Linked DNA regions of Homo sapiens: regions 1 and 2 are each linked to region 3. Evidence: fine-mapped expression QTL. A gene starts in region 3. Each other region holds a variant in brackets. All regions are shown on one strand. Distances are from middle to middle.

Region 1 (2,760 bases), 73 kb before region 3:
TTTATCAAACAGTCGCATGAACCTCTGAAAGCTTTTGTGTTATTTTCTTATTTATTTATTTATTGAGATGGAGTCTTGCTCTGTCGCCCAGGCTGGAGTGCAGTGGCATCATCTTGGCTCACTGCAACCTTTGCCTCCTGGGTTCAAGTGATTCTCCTGCCTCAGCCTCTTGAGTAGCTGGGATTACAGGCGCGCACCACCACGCCCAGCTAATTTTTGTATTTTTAGTATAGACGGGGGTTTCACCATGTTGGTCAGGCTGGTCTCGAACCCCTGACCTCATGATCTGCCTGCCTCAGGTAAAGCAATAGAGATTTCTTAGAACAACTGCTACATGTAGCTTTCCTATTCAAAAGTGATTAGTGTTGTCACCGAATACAGAGGAGACAGCAAAACCACAGTGACATAAATCAAAGGTGCTTTTTAAAGTAGCAAAAGTAGGTACAAGTCACATAATTTCCAAGAAGCTTGTAGAAATGGCAGTAGAGTTCATACCTGTATTGAAAGGTTGCTTTTGGCTGCAAATAATAGAAAAAAACAAAAGCATGTAAGAGCAGACAGAAGACCTTTACTCTGCAAGAGGTTCAGGTGCAGGTTAGTGTTTAATGCAGAGTCTCAGCATTGACAGATTCTTTCTGATCTTCCAATTGATCGTCCTTGCGGGGGCGGTTTAGTTCTTTCCCACTGACTAGGATTGGGTCAAATTCCATCCCCTTGGTTGCATGCAGTGCTGAGAAGGTGAGCATGTGCTTTTCACAGGCTTAATAAAAAGAGGTAGCTCCAGCCAGGTGCAGTGACTCATGCCTATAATCTCAGCACTTTGGGAGGCAGAGGTGGGTAGGTCACCTGAGGTCAGGAGATTGAGACCAGCCTGACCAACATGGCAAAACTCTGTCTCTACCGAAAATACAAAAATTAGCTGGGCATGGTGGCAGGTGCCTGTAATCCCAGCTACTTGGGAGGCTGAGGCAGGAGAATCGCTTGAACCTGAGAGGTGGAAGTTACAGTGAGCTGAGGTCATGCCACTGCACTCCAGCCTGGGGGACAGAGTAGAACTCTGTCTCAACAAAAAAAAAAAAAAAAAGAGAAAAAAAAAGGAGGGTAGCTCCACCAGCCAGGAAGGTGGCAGCGCTGGTGGCTGTTGGATAGGCTACCTACAGTGTCTGGCAAATACTATGCTTGAAGACTATGCTGTGAGCAAGATTCCTTTGTGAAGGAACAGCTTGGACATTGTGTATGTCAGAGGTATACAGCAGAATAGCAGTGACTAACGCTTGTGTGGGAGA[G/A]CAAGCATGTCACCTCATACTTGGAATAAGTCACTGCCATACAAAGTCTGAATCAGCTTTCATCTTTGTGCAACACATGTATGTGGGAGCTTTTCAGCTGCTGAAACCTCTAGTGACAGAAAAGGAGGTTTTGTTGTTCATTTGTAATTAATGTTAATCCTATGAGTGGTGGGAGAGATAGTGAGGTAGGAGATCAGCAGGACCTGTTTTCTGGTCACAACCCAGCTAATCAGAGCATGATCTGGTCAAGATGGGATGCACTAAAAAAACAGCCCAAACCAGCAGATGGCCAGGAAAGCAAACTCTCATTACCCTCGCCACTTATTAGCATAAAGACACTCCCACCGGTGCCATGACAGTTTACAAATGCCATGGAAACACACCATAGCAACGGTCAGCAAGTTACCTCATATGGTTCTGGAAACTCCCCACACCTTTTCCAGATAGTTCTGAATAACCCACCCCTTAATTTGCATGTAATTAAAAGTCGGTATAAGTACAGTTAGCCAGCAGCCCACTGGCTGCTACTGTGGGCTCACTGCCTATGGGTTGTCCTGCTCTGCAAGGAACAGCTACCTTGCTGCCACTGCTGCTTCAATAAACCTGCTTTCTTCCACCACAGGCTCGCTCTTCAGTTCTTTCCTGAGCAAAGTTAAGAACCCTCCCGGGCTAAGCCCCAATTTTGGAGCTTGCCTGCCCTGCATCAGTAGAATGGGCTAACTACTTATGGTGCACTCAGGCTAAAGAGGCTGATGCTTGCAGGGCAGTATTCACAGAGCACACGGTAGTTCACGGGATGCCTCTCACCCTTGACTCAGTGCTTAAGAAAGGAGGGAAAATGGTGAACATGATCAAATCATGGCCATTGCCTATTCATCTTTTCAGTGTTGTATGGAGGAATAGGCAAGTAGGAGATTGCTTTTCACATTAATGTCAAAGAGAAAGATAGTTACTTGGAACTTAAAAAAATTAATTGTGATAAAATATACATAACATAAAATTTACCATCTTAACCATTTTTAAGTATAGCCAATCTCAAGAGCTCTTTCTATCTTGTAAAACTGAAACCCTATACCCATTAAACAACTCCCAATTCTCCCCTTTCCCTAACTCCTGGCAACCACAATTCTTTCTGTCTCTATGAATTTGACTGCTTTGGCATGTCATAGAAATAGACTCATACAGCATTTGTCTTTTTGCGACTGGCATATTTTGCTTAGCATAATGTCCTCAAGGTTCACCCATGTGGTAGCATGTGTCAGAATTCCTCTCCTTTTGAAGGCTGAATAATATTCCATTGTGTGTATATACCACGTTTTGTTTATCCATTTGCCCATCAATGGGCATTTGGGTTGCTTTTTTTGCCTCTCATGAATGATGAATATGGGCGCACAAATATCTCTTCAAGACCATGCTTTCAATTCTCTTGGGTATACACCCAGAAGTGGAATTGCTGAATCATATGGTAATTTTT
Region 2 (2,760 bases), 30 kb before region 3:
TTGAGTCTGGAGCACTGGCGGCTATTCTTAGGGGTTTCTATATTTAAAATGGGGCCTGACTGGCTTGAGGTCATCTCCAGACAGCTGTTGTCCTGTGCCTCTTATTTTGGCAAGGAGGCATTTAAGTACAATATGCCATTCTTTTTATATAGTTGCAGGGAAACTATTTTGTTCCCTATTCTATGCCTGGTGGCTGGCACACAGTTGGGCTTTAATAAATATTTGTAGAATGAATTAAGTGTCTTTTTGAGTCTCAGTGTTTTCAGCTGTAAAATGTATAATAATTCGTACCTTAAAAGATTTTTTAAATACTGGAGACGGGGATCTCACTATATTGTCCAGGCTGGTGTGGAACTCTTGAGCTCACGTGATCCTCCCGCCTCAGCCTCCCACAGTGCTGGGATTACAGGCATGAGCCACTACACGGCCCTTACATCATTTTTATGAAGTTTATGTAAGGTAGGAATGTGTCAACCTGGATTTTGGCAGGTAACAGTAGTTCAGTATATGTATTAGTCACAGTTCTTTGCAAAGAACAGAACTCACTCTTACTAGTTTTAGAAGATAAGTAATTGAGAATCTTAGGTAGCTTACTATGTCTGATATAGCCAGAGATGCCTACAGTCTGCACAGTCATAAACAAGTCATTCCGTTGGCCAGCTGCAGTGACACCCCCACAGCTCACACTGCTGGACCCTGGATGCCAAAAGCTTCATTAAGGCTGCCCTGGAAAACCAGAATTTTCCACCCTCATCCCCTCTTGAAAACAGATTCTTCATGAAACCTGTATCCTGGGTCGCTCTTTTCTGAAAGAATTATGTGATTGCACCAACTGGCAACCCCTAGGTCCCCCAGCTGCAGGAGGGGATGGGAAACTGAGCTCTGGATTCTGCCTTAGGGAGGCAGGAATTGTAGGGAAAATCTCCAGGTCTAGGATGAGTATTCAAAAGGTTCCAGGCAGCCACAAGCCTGACAGGTGTCTACTGCAAAGTGCATTATTTCAATCTGAAAAATATGACTACTTGGAGAAAGCAAGCCTAGACAGGGCTGGTGTGAACCCTCTATCAAAGCAGGTCACAAGAAAGCCACAAGACCAGGCAGGGATGACATCTGCCTGTTCTGTCCTCAGCAACGGGCAGGGACCTTGGCATGAAGGAGGTGTTCTAAAAATATGTATGTAATGAATGCTTGAACCTTGTTACTTTGGTTAACCCTACAACAATGCCTTTTCAGAATTACAATCCAATAGGAAGCTTCTAGCTTTGATCAAGGGCTGATGTACTAATATGAACTTAATATACAAAAGAAGAATGAATTATATAGACATATAATCTGAATTTA[A/T]TATATAAAAAAAACGAGGAAGATATATTTTCAAGAAGGGGCTCTATACCTGTTTCTCATTGGTAATAAACTGAACAGTATGTTCCATCCAACTTTAAGCTGCTGCTATTTTTAAAAAAAATAACCTCCTTGAGCAGTCAAATGTTATACAGTGTTACAAAAATTATTCCTGAGCTCTCACTGAGCTATAATAGAATTCTTCCTACAGTTTTTTTCCCAGCTGGACTTTGGCATTGTTGCAGAGAAGATGGGGCCCTATTCCAGTTAAAGATACCTGGCATCTCCCTCTACACATAGCCCCCTCCCTACGTATATAAGATAATGGCTCCTGGAGAAAACAGACATGAAGACAGGTATTTTTACTTGACAAAGTTCTAGAGGCCTGGCATAGTGGCCCACGCTTGTAATCCCAGCACTTTTGGGAGAATGAGGAGGGCGGATCACTTGAGGTCAAGAGTTTGAGTCCTGCCTGGCCAACATGGTGAAACCCCATCTCTACTAAAAATGCAAAAATTAGCTGGGTGTGGTGGCCCGTGCCTGTAATCCCAGCTACTCGGGAGGCTGAGGCAGGAGAATCGCTTGATCCCAGGAGGTGGAGGTTGTAGTGAGCCAAGATTGTGCCACTGCACTTCAGCCTGGGTGACAGAGTAAGACTCTCTCAAGAAAAAAAAAAAGAAGGAAAAAAGGAAGAAAAGGTTCTAGGTTTCTTTTCTCCCCTAAAAGGCCCCTCAGAGTTTTTCTGGTTGCTGCCAAACAATTCCCTGGGAATTCCCATCCCTTTGTTCTCAGCTTGGGAGCTCCTGTGGAGAGGTTTTCTTGCTGGGATGTCAAGAACGCCCTGAGGAGGGCCACTTCTGTCCTGGGCTGCTGTCACCATCACGAGGTGCACTTGCCCAGGTACCCAGAGACCTCCGCTCAGGTGGTCTGTGCTTTTCTGGGCTTGTCACCATCTTACCTGCCTCTCTAGAGGGTGTGCAGAGCTGTCTCTTCCAGGCTGTGCACTCACCATTGTTTCTGTAAGTTCTCACTCACACAGTTCTTAACCTGGCTGCTGCCAACACTTTCAGTTTCTAGAGGTTTAATTTTTCCTCCACTTTAGGCAGAGGGAAGAACAAACTCACCAGGTGCTAAATAAACCCCGGAGGGCAGCATCTCAGCCTCTGTTCAGAGTATCTCAGCTGTTGGTGGTGAAGGAGGTGGAGGCATGACTCAGGGTCAGTTTCTCTTGTGCCCTCTTCCTGGGATGCTGCATACCATGACCACATTTTCTAAAGCAAAGATCGATTACATGTGATCTACTAAGTATAAATGTTTATGGGGGCCCTAGGGACAGCGTATTTGAAATTAGAATAGTCCTGGAAAAACAACTGTGATACAGGACATGGGTTAGCTAGAACGAACAGGTACAGAGAGATGGAG
Region 3 (2,760 bases):
CGTCCGCTGGTGCTGGCCCAGGTTGGAGCTTTGCGCTAGGGCCCTGCCACACTGCAGGCAGACGCAGGGGTGCTGCTGTGGGCCGCCTAGTGGATGGGCAGGTGGGAGCTGTGGCCGAAGGTCTGGCCACACTCACCACCAAGCATCAGGTTTCCGGACTTTGTGACTGTGCTGGTGCCGCAGCAGATTCCAACTGTGCACAAAACTCTTACTACAAACAAGGCACTTAGAGGCCTTCTCACCCATGTGGAGCGCAGGTGCTGCAACAGGGTGGAGCCAAGGCTGAGACTCTTGCCGCAGTCCCCTCAGCGGTAAGGCTTTTAGCGGTGTGAGCGCGCTGGTGCTGGATCAGGTTGGAGCTGACGCTGAAAGTCTTACCACACTAGGCACAGGCATAGGGCCGAAGCGATGGTCACACTCGGGGCAGGAGTACGGCTTTTCACCGGTGTGTACCCAGTGGTGCTTAACCAGATCAGAGCCACATCGGAAGCTTCTGCCATAACCCGGACAACGGTAAGGCTTGTCACCAGAGGGGCTGCCTTGGTGGTGAATGAAGCCGGGGAGGCAGGCTGTGGTCAGTCCACATTTCCGGCACTCGCAGGTTTTGGGGCTTGTAGACGGTTGCTCTTGGCAAAGGCTTCTTCCTCCCCAGGGCTAGAGCCTGACCATTTTCCGGGCGGGCAGCTGCCCCGACCACACCAGGAAGGGCTGCTCAGGCGGAGCCACCTCGCAATCCAGGGGTGACCTGGGGGCTCCCCGGGACGCGAATGTCCCGCTCCCCCGCCGCCCCGCCCCGTCCGGATTCTCCCTCGCCTCTTCTGGCGCGGCCGACTGCGCTGCGAGTGAAGAACTCCCCGTTTCCTAGATGCCAGCTCCTGAGCTCACGAGCACGTCCAGAGCGGAGGACACTCGGGACACCGGGGTCCAGCTCCGGAAACGGAAAATTCCACAAGCCCGTCACTCTAGGAAGCGGCAGCGAACGTTCTCGGTAGGTTTAACCCTCTTCTTCCTCTGACCGAGCGAGGGCTCCCCGTCTGCGGCGCGGTCAGGACCCCGCACTTTCGGCCCGGCTCGGGGTTCTCGGAGTCCGTCCCAAGGCCGGGCCGCACCACCGCTGGGGGGCAGCGAAGCGAGCCTAGAGGAGAAAAGGCGGTCCCCGCCGAGTGCACGCCGGGGGCGGGGCACGGCACGAAGGCTCCGTGGTCGGACTTCTGGGCTGTTCGGAGGCCCTGGCCCACCTGGAGGGCCCTGGAAGAGTTTCCAGCGCTTCCCGAGGTAGGCGTGAGAAGCTCGACGCGGACCACATCTCCCTCATGCACCGCCCGCACGTCCCAGGATGCGCTGCGATTAAGGTACTGCCGCGCCTCGTGTGCAAGGACAGACTTCCGGGGTCGAGAACTACAACTTCCGACTTGCATCACTGCGGTGGCGCTAAACAGCGTCAGCGAGGCGGTGCCCGACGATTTCCCTGTCTTCCAGTTCCGCTCCCTGGGATCAGCGGCGAGAAGCGGGGCGGAGTCTGAGGCCCGAGCCAAGATGGCGGCTGCGAAGCCAACCCTCACGGACTCGCTCTCGTTCTGCCTCGCGCAGCTCGCGGCGGCGGCCGGGGAGGCTCTGGGTGGGGAAAAGGACCCAGCGACCAACGAGACACCCCTGAGCCGCGCGCTCCTAGCCCTCCGCACGCGCCACATCAAGGCAGCGGGGGGAATCGAGCGCTTCCGGGCACGCGGCGGGCTCCGCCCCCTACTCGCGCTGCTACGGCGAGCGGCTGCAGCGGGTTCCGCCCCGTCCCAGGCAGGCCCCGGCTCCGCCCCCTCGTCGGCCGCGTCGGGAGCTTCTAGCCCCGCCCCCGCGTCGGGCCCCGCCCCCTCCGCTGTGTCGTCGTCTAGTCCTACGCCGCCAGTGCGCCTGCGCAAGACGCTGGACTTGGCGCTCAGCATCCTAGCCGATTGCTGTACGGAAGGGGCGTGCCGGACCGAAGTGCGCAGACTCGGAGGCATACTCCCTTTGGGTAAGTGCTCCGCCCCCGTTTCCTAGAAAGATTAGGTTTGCAACTCCCTTGCTCTCTAGACCCGGGCAGTCTGGAGTTCTTTGTGTCCTATCCCGGAATAACGTGCTTTGTGATGGCGCATCGCTCCTGTTTCTCAATCTGTTGTGCCCCGTGACGTCACTGCACTCTCTATAGATGAGAGAGAGCCCTCCCAGACCAGATAATTGTAGCCATTATCTAGGAATTGGTTGTTGAGGACTTCTTTCGAAGCTGGACTAGCGGAGGCCAAAGAGTTATTTGGTGATTTTTTCAGATGATTCTTACCGTCCAGTTATGATGTTCATAGCAGACATTCAGTGCCCAACTATGTGTCCGGCCCTGTGCAAGGTTCTGAAGCCCCACTGATGAGCTGGAAGGTGTAGTGGTTCAGAAAGGGAGATCTGCAAAAGTCACCTAACCCCTCCGAGGCTAGGATTCCTTGTAAAATGGGGCAATAATAGCTACCTAAAAAAATCAGAGTGGGGAGAAAACGAAGTACAAATATGGCACGAATATGCAAATATTCTAAGCATGATACGTATTTCAAGTTATTAAAAACTAGCATAAGCTGGGTGCAGTGGTACGCGCCTGTAGTTCCAGCTATTTGGGAGGCTGAGGCGGGAGGATCCCTTGAGCCTAGGAGGTTGAGGCTGCAGTGAACAATGACTGCCTGTGAATAGCCACTGCATTCCAGCCTGGGCAACGTAACAAGACCTCGTATCTTAGAAAAC

The links. PIP is the estimated chance that this variant, and not a neighbour inherited with it, causes the effect.
Region 1: its variant is the best candidate, but not a certain one, in a credible set for the expression of ARMC5 in whole blood (TOPMed, PIP 0.50).
Region 2: its variant is the best candidate, but not a certain one, in a credible set for the expression of ARMC5 in whole blood (TOPMed, PIP 0.50).

What each region holds. Positions count from the first base shown.
Region 1 is chr16:31,385,132-31,387,891 of GRCh38, forward strand. No RefSeq gene overlaps it. Among named protein-coding and RNA genes, the nearest start is that of ITGAD, 6.8 kb to the right of the region's middle. The variant G/A (reference allele first, on the strand shown) is at 1,287.
Region 2 is chr16:31,428,413-31,431,172 of GRCh38, forward strand. No RefSeq gene overlaps it. Among named protein-coding and RNA genes, the nearest start is that of COX6A2, 1.4 kb to the left of the region's middle. The variant A/T (reference allele first, on the strand shown) is at 1,342.
Region 3 is chr16:31,457,989-31,460,748 of GRCh38, forward strand. It overlaps ARMC5 (armadillo repeat containing 5), which reads left to right and starts at 1,513. Exons shown (of 6, transcript NM_001105247.2): 1 at 1,513-2,011. The coding sequence starts at 1,537. RefSeq lists enhancers at 643-1,183, 1,182-1,521 and a silencer at 1,712-2,061.